Regions from separate parts of the Homo sapiens genome. Here regions 2 and 3 are each linked to region 1. Evidence: fine-mapped expression QTL. Tissue or cell type: whole blood. Region 1 holds a variant in brackets; each other region holds the start of a gene. Each region is shown on its reference strand, or each on the opposite one. Region 1 has its middle 12 kb from the start of ZNF367. Region 2 holds the start of LINC00534 (long intergenic non-protein coding RNA 534). Region 3 holds the start of CTTN (cortactin).

The links.
Region 2: LINC00534 starts here. The variant in region 1 is fine-mapped to the expression of LINC00534 in whole blood (TOPMed, PIP above 0.99).
Region 3: it holds the start of CTTN, and the variant in region 1 is fine-mapped to the expression of CTTN in whole blood (TOPMed, PIP above 0.99).

Annotation. Positions count from the first base shown.
Region 1 is chr9:96,428,357-96,432,600 of GRCh38, forward strand. No RefSeq gene overlaps it. Among named protein-coding and RNA genes, the nearest start is that of ZNF367, 12 kb to the left of the region's middle. The variant A/C (reference allele first, on the strand shown) is at 2,281.
Region 2 is chr8:90,219,322-90,223,565 of GRCh38, forward strand. LINC00534 (long intergenic non-protein coding RNA 534) reads left to right here and starts at 2,167. Exons shown (of 4, transcript NR_051989.1): 1 at 2,167-2,425.
Region 3 is chr11:70,396,845-70,401,088 of GRCh38, forward strand. It overlaps CTTN (cortactin), which reads left to right and starts at 1,685. Exons shown (of 18, transcript NM_005231.4): 1 at 1,685-1,770. It overlaps CTTN-DT (CTTN divergent transcript), which reads right to left and starts at 1,618. Exons shown (of 3, transcript NR_186321.1): 1 at 1,254-1,618. RefSeq lists silencers at 15-203, 1,301-1,350, 1,451-1,960, 2,542-2,611 and enhancers at 981-1,050, 3,899-4,193.

The DNA of each region.
Region 1 (4,244 bases):
ATGTTGGTCAGACTGGTCTCGAACTCCCAGCCTCAGGTGATCCACCCGCCTCGGCTTCCCAAAGTGCTGGGATTGCAGGCATGAGCCATCACCCCGGCCAGTTTCTGTCTTAGACGTCTCTCTTGATTTTTATGAATTGACATGATTTCTTGTTTGGTTGTGAATGCACACTGCCCTAGTTTTCAATAAGCCCATCATACATTTTCACCAGGTCCTCTATAGGTGCTTTTTCTATAGTGTTAACATCATCATCTTCACTGTCACTGTTATCACGATCACCTTGGTTCAGAACCAACTCAGATATTTCACCCTCAGTTAGTGAAGGAACAAGGCTCATTAAAAACGTCTTGAATATCCACTTCTTCCAGCTCTGACACAGACTACATATATATATGTATATATATGTATATATGTATATATGTATATATGTACATATGTATATATGTATATATGTACATATGTATATGTGTATATATGTATATATATGTATATGTGTATATATGTATATGTATGTATATTGTGTATATATGTGTATATATGTATATATATGTATATATATGTATATATGTATATATATGCATATACGTATATATGTATATATGTATATATGTATATATATGTATATATGTATATATATGTATATATGTATATATACGTATATATGTATATATGTATATATACGTATATATGTATATATGTATATATACGTATATATGTATATATGTATATATGTGTATATACGTATATATGTATATGTATGTATATGTGTGTATATATGTGTATATATGTATATATGTATATATGTGTATATATGTATATATGTATATATGTATGTGTGTGTATATATGTATATATGTATATGTATGTATATGTGTGTATATATGTATATGTATGTATATATGTGTATATATGTATGTATATATGTATATATGTATGTATATATGTATATATGTGTATATATATACACACACACACACACATATATATATATATATATTTTTTTTTTTTTGAGACGGAGTCATGCTCTGTCGCCCAAGCCGGAGTGCAGTGGAGCGATCTCGGCTCACTGCAACCTCCACCTCCTGGGTTCAAGCGATTCTCCTGCCTCAGCCTCCCAGGTAGCTGAGACTACAGGCATGTGCCACCACGCCCAGCTAATTTTTTTGTATTTTTAGTAGAGATGGGGTTTCACCATGTTGGCCAGGCTGGTCTCGAACTCCTGACCTCAGGCGATCCACCTGCCTTGGCCTCCCAAAGTGCTGGGATTACAGGCGTGAGCCACCGCACCCAGCCGACACAAACATTTTTGATGAAAATTTCAGCTGGGGAATGAGCAAAATCGGTATCAAGGAATAACAAAATCTTACAGTCCTCATTCAGTTTAGTTTCTTTGCAGTGAGCACATGCCACTAGTACAAAATGTTTGTGAAAACAATTAGAAAAGCTGTCCCTGATGATCCCTGCCTTTTTGTTAGCAGAACAATGGACTGGTAAAAAATTCACTCCTTGAAAACAGCAAGCTTTTTCACCTGCCTGTCACAGTAAGTTTACATTTATGTGTGCCTGCTGCATGAGCACATTGCAACATAGTTATTCTGTCCTTGGCATCCCTAATTCCTGTAGGGGCTGTCTCACCAGCTGTAGTCAATGTATTTCTGGGGTAATAACAGCAAAACAATAATGTTTCATCAGCATTATAGACTTGTTCTGCTGTCAGATTTTCATCAGCAATGACCTTGGCACACTAGTTAATTTCTCTGCTGCTTCATGATCACCACGAATCTTTAAAAAAATTTAATGCTGTGTCTTCTCTTAAATCTGCACCTAGCCTGCTGAATATTCACAGTTCCCTTCAATATTCAGTTCATCGTGATAGATCTTTGCTTGTCTCATGATAAGCAGGCCATTAAGTGGCATATGCTCACTGCAATGCTAATGGATGCACTCTTTCAATACATGATCAAGATCTTCATTTTCAGCTTTGCAGTGTTTTTCTATTTTTCATTAACTTCTATCCATCACTTTTAGCACAGAAGTTCAACAGTTTATCCATCTGTTTCTTCAGGTCACATATGGTGGTCATTCCAACACCATACTGTTCTGTAAGGCATTTCACACTTCCACCGCCATCCAATTTTTCCAACAGCATGACTTTCTGTGCTATAGATAAACATAAGTGCTTCTTTTTTTTCTTATCACTGTTACCCATAGGGGTATCTTTTTGGCATTTCCAACAATATCTTTAAACACAGAGCAGAGAATAAGCAAAAAAAAAAAAAA[A/C]CACAGTGAGTAATGCACATAGGTCTTGGCCCTATATGGGGCATTGTGGGGAACCTGCCATTGGTGCATCCAGCTGCATATGTACAATTTTATTACCCTTTACAGGCACGCTTGTTGGGGGGTAATCTGGGCATGCACAGAAAAGATATACCACAGCTGAAAGGGGCCGGGAGGGTCTTTTTTTCTGTTGGGGATGCTGAATAAACCATGTTGTGCAACTGCATTTTGACTGCAACCTATCACATGAGGTCAGGTGTGGAATGTTCCATTTCTGGCATCATGTGAGCACTCGAAAAGTTTCAGATTTTGGAGCATTTTCAAGTTTGGATTTTCAGGTTAGGGATGCTCAACCTGTAATTGATTTCTGTCATCTAATCATAGTAGTTAACACCTCCAATACAATGTTGAAAAGTAGTGGATAGTGAACATCCTTGCCTTATTTCCAATGCTAGAATTCCCTATAGTGTATCCCCATTAAATAAGAAACTAATTTTAGGAATAACATTCAATTATGTTAAGAACGTATTTTTTAATTCCTATCTTCCTGAGTGCTTTATGACGAATGTATGTGGATTTTTTTCCAAAGGCTTTCTCTGCTTTTAAGGAGGTAATAATATTATCTTTTTTCTTTTTTCGAGACGGAGTCTCGCTCTGTCGCCCAGGCTGGAGTGCAGTGGCTCAATCTCGGCTCACTGCCAGCTCTGCCTCCCGGGTTCATGCCATTCTCCTGCCTCAGCCTCCCGAGTAGCTGGGACTACAGGCGCCCACCACCAGGCCTGGCTAATTTTTTGTATTTTTAGTAGAGACGGGGTTTCACCGTGTTAGCAGGATGGTCTTGATCGTGATCCGCCTGTCTTGGCCTCCAAAAGTGCTGGGATTACAGTCGTGAGGCACCGCGCCCGACTGTTTTTTTTTTTGTTTTTTTTTTTTTTTTTTTTTTTTGAGAGGAGTCTTGCTCTGTCTCCCAGGCTGGACTGCAGTGGTGCAATCTCGGCTTACTGCAAGCTCCGCCTCCCGGGTTCACGCCATTCTCCCGCCTCAGCCTCCCGGGTAGCTGGGACTACAGGCGCCCACCACCACACCTGGCTAAATTTTTGTATTTTTAGTAGAAACGGGGTTTTAGTAGTTTTAGTAGAGACAGGGTTTCACCGTATTAGCCAGGATGGTCTCGATCTCCTGACCTCGTGATCTGCCCGCCTCAGCCTCCCAAAGTGCTGGGATTACAGGTGTGAGCCACCATGCCCGGCCAGCCAGGCTGGTCTTGAACTCCTGACCTCAGGTGATCCGCCTGCCTCAGCCTCCCAAAGTTCTAGGATTACAGGCTTGAGCCACAGTGCCTGGCCTATATAATTTTTAAAAAGCAATATGGACAAAAGAATAAGACCCAGAGGGGATACACACACATACACACACAAAAGGGTAGTCTCTAATTGGTAGGTGTCTAGTACATAGGGTCTATGGTTCAATCTGTCCCTTTTGGTATAAATTAGCATGCCAAGATACAGTTTGAGTCAGCCAATCCTCAAGAATTACATTTTTATCTGAGGTACATTTTAGAATCTAATGTAGTGTCATTAGACACATGTGCAAATTTTTTTTTTTTTGAGATGGAGTCTTGCTCTGTCACCCAAGCTGAAGTGCAAGGCATGAGCTCGGCTCACTGCAACCTTTGCCTCTTGGATTCAAGCCATTCTCCTGCCTCAGCCTCCTGAGTAGCTGGGATTACAGGTGTGCGCCACCACGTCCAGATAATATTTTGTATTTTTAGTAGAGACTTCTACTAAAGGCTTCACCATGTTAGCCAGGCTGGTCTTGAACTCCTGACCTCAAGAGATCTGTCTACCTTGGCCTCCAAAAGTGCTGGGATTACAGGCATGAGCCACTGTGCCGGGCCAAGATGTGCACGTATTTTGTGTGCATACTGTTCACCATCCCCCGCAACTACATGGAAAGCTTGTCTGGGA
Region 2 (4,244 bases), not on the chromosome of region 1:
TATTATGAATGATGCTGTTACGAACATTCATGCACAAGTCTTTGTCTGGACACAGATTCTCATTTTTCTTGAGTATAGATCTAAGAGTGAAATTACTGGGTTATATAGTAAATAATAATTTTTGAGTAAACGTAGCATTTCACATTCCCACCAGCAATGCATGAGAGTTCCAGTTCTTACATTCTCGTCAGTCCTTGTTATTATTAGTCTTTGTTTAGAGTGGGTTCTAAGTATATCTCTTTGTTGTTTTAATGTTAAATACACCCTTTCGAACTAGTAAAATCTTTGAGAAACTGTGACTCCTCCCTAGCTCTCTGGACTCCCAAAGCTTTAATCCACTGTTTAGTGTTCTTTTAACAATTATGATGTGGCTATAATTTATTCATTGATCAATTCATTCATTGATTCATTAACTCAACAGTGATAACTGAACATCTGCAATAGGTCAAGCGATATTCCAGGAATAAAAAACTGAATTAAATTGATTCCTGCTCTCAAGGACTTGACTAACCTAATTGGAAACATGGACCTAGACAGTAAGAATTAAAATACAATGTGGTAGATGCAAATAAAGTACAAAATGTTATTCAAGTTCTGATCTAGTCAAATCTTAATATGTCAAGGGCTTTCAGTTGCCATTTTCCTTGTCATGAGAACATCTTTCTAACATGCTCAGGGTTGATTTCTAATGGTAAGAGAATGAGGTTGGAATGAGATAGGAGCTGACTTCCAGTCAACACTGTGGGCTCCACATATCACTTTTCTTTAGTCCATTATCAGTGCTATTATCTAGTTCAGAACTTGATATGCTCAAAACACCCTAGTTTCTGTTCTTGCATCTTAAAGTAGAAAGATCAGATGCTATTTCCATTAGTTGTCCATCTAAGGATACCATATAGCTATTCCCTTGATAGATTTAGTTTCACCACCTTACATTGAATTTTTCTTAAGAAGGAAGCAACTAAAATAAACAAGAAGTTCAATCCTGAGATTCTGAGGGCAATGGCATTTGCAAGCAATTTGTGGCAGGTAAGAGAGCAGTCCATAAAGTACTTCCTCCTAGGATGTTCTTGTGATTTCTGCTCTAATATATCTCCCACCCCCAAAATGCATGCAAGTGCCTACACACACACACACACACACACACACTGCCACCACCTTCTCCACTTCCCTAAACCCAATGAATGACTAACTTGCACAACATTCATCCACAGATTTTAAATATGAATACAAAGAAGGGATTCTAGTGATTGATACTTTTCCTGACCTTTAGATAACAGTTAACTAAACCATTTTAAGCTGATGTTGACATAGCCTATTAAATATCTCTACAGCAGAAATTCTATAATCTGCATTGTTCAGAAGTCCTGAAGTCTATGATTTAATGTAAAAATAGACCAGAAATCTGAAGAATTTATACAATTTATATTTATAACACAGTTGACTTAGTTGAATGTGTCAGAACACAATATGTGTACATATAAAATTTTTGGTGAAGTATGCCATAAAATTATAATTTGTTCATTAATTTTACCAGTTCACAAACATTTCTTAGGTATGGGTAATATGTCAGGCTATATGCTAGTTATTGTGGATACATGGATAAGAAAAAGACAATCCTCATCTTAAAGGAACAAACTCATTGGAGATAGACCTGTAAACAAAGAATTACCACACACAGTAATAAACATAGGGGAAAAAGAAAAATTAATCATCAGGATAGGAATGAAGGAGTTTTAGGGAAGACTTCCAAAGAAATAGGTTTTTGAACTGTGTCTTAAATATTTGCTACTCACAAAGTGTGGTTTTCAAACTGGGGGTATTCGCCTTTTCCAGAAGCCTGTTAGAACTTCAGAATCTCAGATCCCATTCAGGACATACCAAATCAGGATCTCTATTTTAATAAGATCTCTGGTCATTTGTATGACATTAAATTTTAAGAAGGTTTGCTTTAAAGGATGGTGAAGAATTCCCAAGTAGGTTTGAAGGAAAGGAAAAATATTCTCCAGAAGTGGGAACGATACTTGTAAAGGGACTATCTTGGACAAGATTCTCCTCAGAAGCACACTCTGAGGCAAAGAGTTGAGTACAGCAGTTTATTTGGGAGGAAACACTAGTAGGGGAGTGGGAAGTGAGATAAGGAAGGGAAGAATGACTGTAAAGAGTGTCTTTTCTGGCAGATTACTTCTGTGAGCAACTGGGTCTCTCAGTTCTTTGGGAGCACCCTGGGAAACAGTGTGGCTATGACTTGGAGCTGCTCACCAGTTCCAGTCATTCTGTGGTTGAGAGCTGCTCCCTATGGATGTTAATTCTTCTCTATTTTAGATTTTCCACAGGTGTGGGCCCCATTAGCTCTGGCCACCTGAGAAAGCCCTCAGGCAAAGAGTCGCAGGTGAAAGCCAGCAGTTAGAGGTTCACAGAAATGGTGAGTGCTGAACGGATATGGGTGGGTATCAATGATGGCTGCTATAGAGATCAAGGCATGAAACGGGACTACAAGGTATACTCAAGGAATTGCTGGTTGTCTAGCATTCTGGGAGTGTAGGGAATAAGTGTGGAAGTATCAGGATCTAAGGGTGTCTAGATACATAACAGCCAAATCATGAAGGGCCGTGTGAGGAAGACATGCTAAGGAAGTTGGAACTTATTTTGCGGGCCACTAAATATTTAAAAAATAGAGTGTCATAGTAGAAATTTCATCTTTGGAAAGATTATTTTGCAGTCTAGAGGGTGGGACTTCAGTGAGACTGAAGACAGAGAGGCCAGTTAAGAACTCTATCATCTTGGATACAGCTTTTGTAGTTACGGTATCACCATTAGCTGACTGGATTAATTAATATCTCTATTGAGCTTCTGCTGTGTTTGCAGCATTTTGCAGGTAGCTGTGTGAGGTATATCAGGTATTTTCTTTAATTAATGAAAATAATCTGTTTAAAGTCTATTCAATATATTGGTGCTATTGCTGTATGTTAGTAAGTGTTGGTGTGTTTAAATTTTACATGATGTGTATATATCACAGGTCTTGAGTACGCTAGCTGATACCTAGTATCATTCTCTAAAAAACGACCAATAGTATTTTTCTTTTTCCTGAGAGCACAGGATGAAATTTAAGCTAATAATTTTCTTTTATACCAAAAAATTACCTTTATACAAATTTTTTAATACCAAAAGTTCCCATTCATTGGGAACTATATGTAGGTCCCCAGTGAATGAATATATTAATTATTCACCTTGCCCATGGACACTAGTCACATTTTATTTGCGACCATTGCCACATCTCATAGAATAGGAATTTCTTGATTATTGCTATATTCACTCATATCAAAGTGTTGCCTTCCATTTCTCTTAGCTAAGATAGGCAGAAAACTTTTTACTAAGCCAGATAAATAATGGCTCATGTACTAATCCTTGTGAAATTAAACAAAAAAATCTGTGAAATTAAAAAAAATTATGAAATTAAAAAAAAATGGAAAGAAATTCCTGCCATGTCACTTACTATCCCTAATCTTAATTTCAGTGTTGTATAGATGTGTGCTTCTAAAATGTCGTGTTTTTCACACTTCGTTTCAATCCTTGAACTCTATTGAAAAGCTTCATTATATATTCTCCATTACTGATCTCGTTATAAAAATTTGATGTTGCTTAAAATAACCATTTGCTTTATTAAGCCAAGCTTTGTTTACTTCTGTATCTGTTGAGATTAACCTCCCATCACCATCCTTATACATGTACCCTTTGATTATTCTCAGTATTGATATCTTGGTCTTCCAAGAGCTGTAAGTTTTTAATTCACAAAAGGAAGGAGGTTCTAGGATTCAACTAATGTGATGACTAGATTTGTATATGGTATTAAAGTATTAAAGGAGAGAATTTCTTCGCCCATAGCTTATCATTTATTTGAATGCAGAGAAAATTTACTGGGGAGATTCAAAATGATAAATTTGTCTATGTGGAATTCAATAAGCAAAATGCTGAAATAGAGTCTAAATCTTCCATCATCACTAAAGCTGTTTGATAAGAAATTTATCTCCTCTTGTCTGCTTTAGCTTGATCTAAGTTAAGTACTAATGAATCATGACCCAGTCTGTGTTCCTTTGTCCTCACATTTTACTTGCTGTGGCAAGGATTCAAAAGTGATTGATTAATGTCAAATAGGTTTTCGCTCTCTATTGGAAATCTTGCTGCAGTAACACATGCTTTTTTTGTTTTAAATTTATATAAGGCAACTTTCTCTATGGTGGGTA
Region 3 (4,244 bases), not on the chromosome of region 1:
CCTTTGCACTAGAGATAGAGCAGTTTTTGCAAATTCATTTCAGCATTCGTCTTCCGTTTTTTTTTTTTTTGACACAGGGTTTCTGTTGCCCGTGCCGGAGCGGTCCTTTTGCCTCAGCCTCCAGAATAGCTGGGACCACAGGTAAACGTCACCATGCCTGGCTAATTTTTTTCTTAAAAAAAATTTTTTTTTTTTGGTAGAGACAGGGTCTTGCCATGCTGCCCAGGCTGGTCTCAAATTCCTGACCTCCAGCAATCCTCCTGCCTTGGCCTCCCAAAGTGTTGGGATTACAGGCGCGAGGCACTGCATCTGGCCAAATTCTTTAAACAATTTGTAACAACTTATGATGTATTCATTATCGAGTTAAATAAAATATTTGACGTGTTCATTTTATATGTGTATGAAGGTCATGATTTTACCTTTAAAAAAATGGTCAACACCTGACATTTCCTTCCGCCACCCGCACTTCCAATTCATCCTCACATCTGACAGTTTAGCTTTCTAAATGCCTCTTGCATCTATCCACTTCTCCCCATCTTACCTGCCACCAGCGGTCTGCCCGAATTGGCTACATTAGGCTCTACCTGGCCCTTCTCCCATCCATCTTCCACACAGCAGCCAGAGTGATCTCATTACAATTCAAACTTCATTATGTCTTATTTATTTATTTAGCGATGGCGGGCGGGGGCGAGGGTCTCACTATGCTGACCAGGCTGGTCTCGAACTCCTGGCCTTAGGCGATCCTCCCATGTCAGCCTCCCAAAGTGTTATGATTACAGGCGTGGGCCACTGCGCCTGGCCCAAACTTCATGATGTCTCTTATCAGCTTAACTTCCTCCGAGGACTTCCCGTGTCTCCCAGAATAAAGACCGAGGTCTTCGCTGTGCTCTATCGGCCTCTGCATGACCTGGCCCCTCTCACACCACAGCTCCGCTGCACCACTAGCCCTCTACCATGCTGAGCTGAGCCTCCTCCAGTTCCCCTGCTGCAAGACCGTTCCTGCCTTGGGACCTCTGTTGGCCCTGCTGTTGGAACCTGCTGTTGGCCTGCCTGGAAAATTCTTCCCTCCTTACCTTGTTTACTCTTATAGGGCCTTCACATCTTGGCTAACATGTGAATCGCCCAAAGAAACCTCTGGTCTCCCAGGGGTTCAGGTCCTACCGTCTCCCCAATACGATGTTATGAAACTCTCACTTCTTGGCATTTATCTCATTTCCCAGGTGAGTACCCATGTGGTTTAACGCTTGACTCACCTTCTAGGCTGCTATGTCCCTGTGGCCGGGGCTCGCGTCCCTGGCACGCATGTGGCCCTTTCTTGGAGGGGAGGTGCATGGTGAGCGGACGAGGACGGCTGAGGGCGCGCGCGGAGGGAGGATGGAGAGATGAAGAGGCTCCCCGCTCCCGGACTCAGGGCACGTGCGTCTCCTCGGCTGGCTTCCTTCCCCCGGCCCCGGGCAGCGCCGCGGATCCTGAGACCCCGCCGCGGGCTGTGTGCTGCTCAGCGCCCATCCTCTGCGCGCGCAACGCTACTTCCGGGCGAGCTCTGCAGACTCGCCACAGGCCGGGCTAGCGCTTAGCCAGCTGCGGGCGGACCCCCGGGACTCTTGCGGGCCAAGACGCGGGAGGAGGCGGGGCAGGGGGCGGGGTCGCGCGGGGACCCGGATGCGGCCCCGCCCCCGCCCTCGGAACCGGAAGTAGAGCCTGGTGCCTGGGAGCGGCTGGCGCGGCGGAATCCAGGGCCGACCCGGGCCGGACCGACCCCAGGCGGCGGTGAGCGAGCGCGGCGTCCGCCCGGGGTGCAGGCCGGGCTCTGCTTCTTCCCTCCTGTGGCGTCGCCTGGCCGCGAAAGGGGAAGGAAGCGGCGGCCGCAGCGGTCTCACCGCTCTTCCGCTTGCGGTTTCGGGGGCCGGGGCAGAGTGGCGAGGCTTTCCCGGCCTGGGGCGGGGCAGGGCGAGGGCCGGGGGTCCGCGAGGGCCACGAGGACGGGTCTGGGCCCAAGGAGGCCGGGCAGGGGGCAAGGGGGCACGGAGGGCTTGGGGCTGGGGTCCGCGGAGGAAGGTTAGAAAGGGGCCAAATTGGGGTATCAGCTCTGAGGGGAGGGTCCCTGGGCGCCGGGGGGCTCCAGGGCAGGAGAGGGGCCAGGCTGGGAGGGGTCTTGGGTCCGAGGGAATAGGAGAGGGGGATGGGCTCCGAGGGGGAGGGTATTAGGGCCCGAGGGAGAGGGGCTGGGCCTGTGGGGTTCGGGGGTCTGAGCGGAGGGGGCCGGGGTTCGAGGGGCCAAGGAAGGTGGGTGTGGGGGGTCTCAAGGAAAGGGCGAGGGGTCTGAGAGGGAGGTGTCTGGGTGCAGAGGGAAAGGGATGAGGTCCGAGGGGAGGAGATTGGGGTCTGACGGGAAGGGGTCCAGGCGCAGAGCTACTGGGATGGGGTCCGAGGGAAGGGAATTGGGGTTCGAGGGGAAGGGGTCGGGGCTCGGAGGAAAGGTATAGGGTCCGAGGGGAGGGGATTGGGGCTCCAGGGGAAGGGATCCAGGCGCAGGGAAAAGGGATGGGGTCCGCGGGGTCAAGGCGGTTGGGGTGCGCGACTTTGAGGGGCTCGCTGTGGGACGTGGCGGAGCAGCTGGGGATCCGCCCGGCCTGCACCTGAGCGGAGGTTTTGCAATCAGGTCAGTGGAGGCAGCGAGGCGCGGCTGCAGCTAGTCGTGAGGCTCTAAATTTGGAACCGTCCCTCCTTCGGGGTGTGTTTAAAATCACCAGAACGGTGCTTTGGGGCTTTCTGTTACGTTTCCATCACCTGGATAGTCTAAGGGATGCCTGATCCCTGAAGCTGGAAGGCCTTGGGTGAGAAGGGACAGGGCTTCCTCCCGCTGGAATCTGTGGACGTTTGGGGCCCCTTGGGGAGGAATTCATTTTCTGCTGAAGGAAGCTCCGGAGGCATCCGGTGAGCGCTCCCTGGAATCCCATGCGCTCCCTTTGGGCTCAGTGTTGACTTGGCTGCGCAGGCTCTGTCGGGGGGACTTCACCCACTAGGTCCTTCAGGCATGATCCAGCCCTCAAGCCCGGCCGGGCCCAAGGCCGTGGCGCAGGAGGGGCTGGCCGCCTGCCCCTGTCTCCATTCACGTGTTTGACCGTGTGGGTGAGTCACTGGCTCCAGAGCACTGAGTCAGTCCTGTTTCTCCTCTGGTTAGAGAAGTATTCGCCAGATACTCAAGGAACAAGGAAGAGTCTTTTAAGTGGGACTCAATAAAAAGTTGGGGAGGCAGGGTTGTTTTGATATTAGGTCCCCTAGAACTAGAAGCTAACCTTCTGCTATATCTTACTGAAAAGAAATTTCTTTTGACCTGGGGCAGGGGTGCGGTGGCTCACACCTGTAATCCCTGCACTTTGGGAGGTCAAGGTGAGAGGATCGTTTGAGGCCAGGAGTTCCAGACTAGCCTGGGCAACACAGGGAGACCTTGTGTCTACAAAAAAAGAAATTCGCTGGGCATGTTGGCTTGCACCTGTTGTCCTAGCTACTTGGGGCGCTGAGGCAGAGGATCTCAAGCCCAGGAGTTGGAGGCTGCATTGAGCTCGATCGCACCACTGTACTCCAGCCTGGGTGACAGAGCGAGACCCTGTCACCCAGGCTGGAGTGCAGAGGCTCTTCACAGGTGCCATCTAGCACACTGCAACCTTGAACTGCTGGCCTTAAGCGATCCTCCCACCTCAGCCTCCCAAGTAGCTGGGACTGCAGGCCCAGCTAAAGCTGACTTTTAATTGTAGCATTTTGATGGACTTGTTTTTAAAACACTTTTAAAATGACAGCACACATAATCGGCAATTCAGATCTTCAGTCTGTGCCACGCAGTAGGTGCTCAGAAAAGGTGTCCTGAGAGTGTGAATTGCTGTGAGCGCTGGTTGCTGCCTTGTGTTGCAGTATTCCCATGGCCTGGGCCAGCCAAGAGCAGGGGACTGTGCTCCAGGAGCAGGCTTGGCTTTCACTGTGGCCCAGGCCCACCCCATCTGCTCACGCACTGCTTTGAGTAAACGGAGTAAATGTTGGGGGCGGGGTTTCCCTTGAGTAAGTGTGGTGTAGGGAGTGTGCCTGTGATGGTGATTTTGGCTACGCAAGTGTCTGTTTCCTTTCTCCTCCTGCTCTGCCATAGATGCTGAGGCTAATGGAAAGCTGATGGTGGACGGATGGTTCTGTCCTGTCATTTAAAACATTCTTCTGCCAGGCTCGGTGGCTCACACCTGTAATCTCAGCAC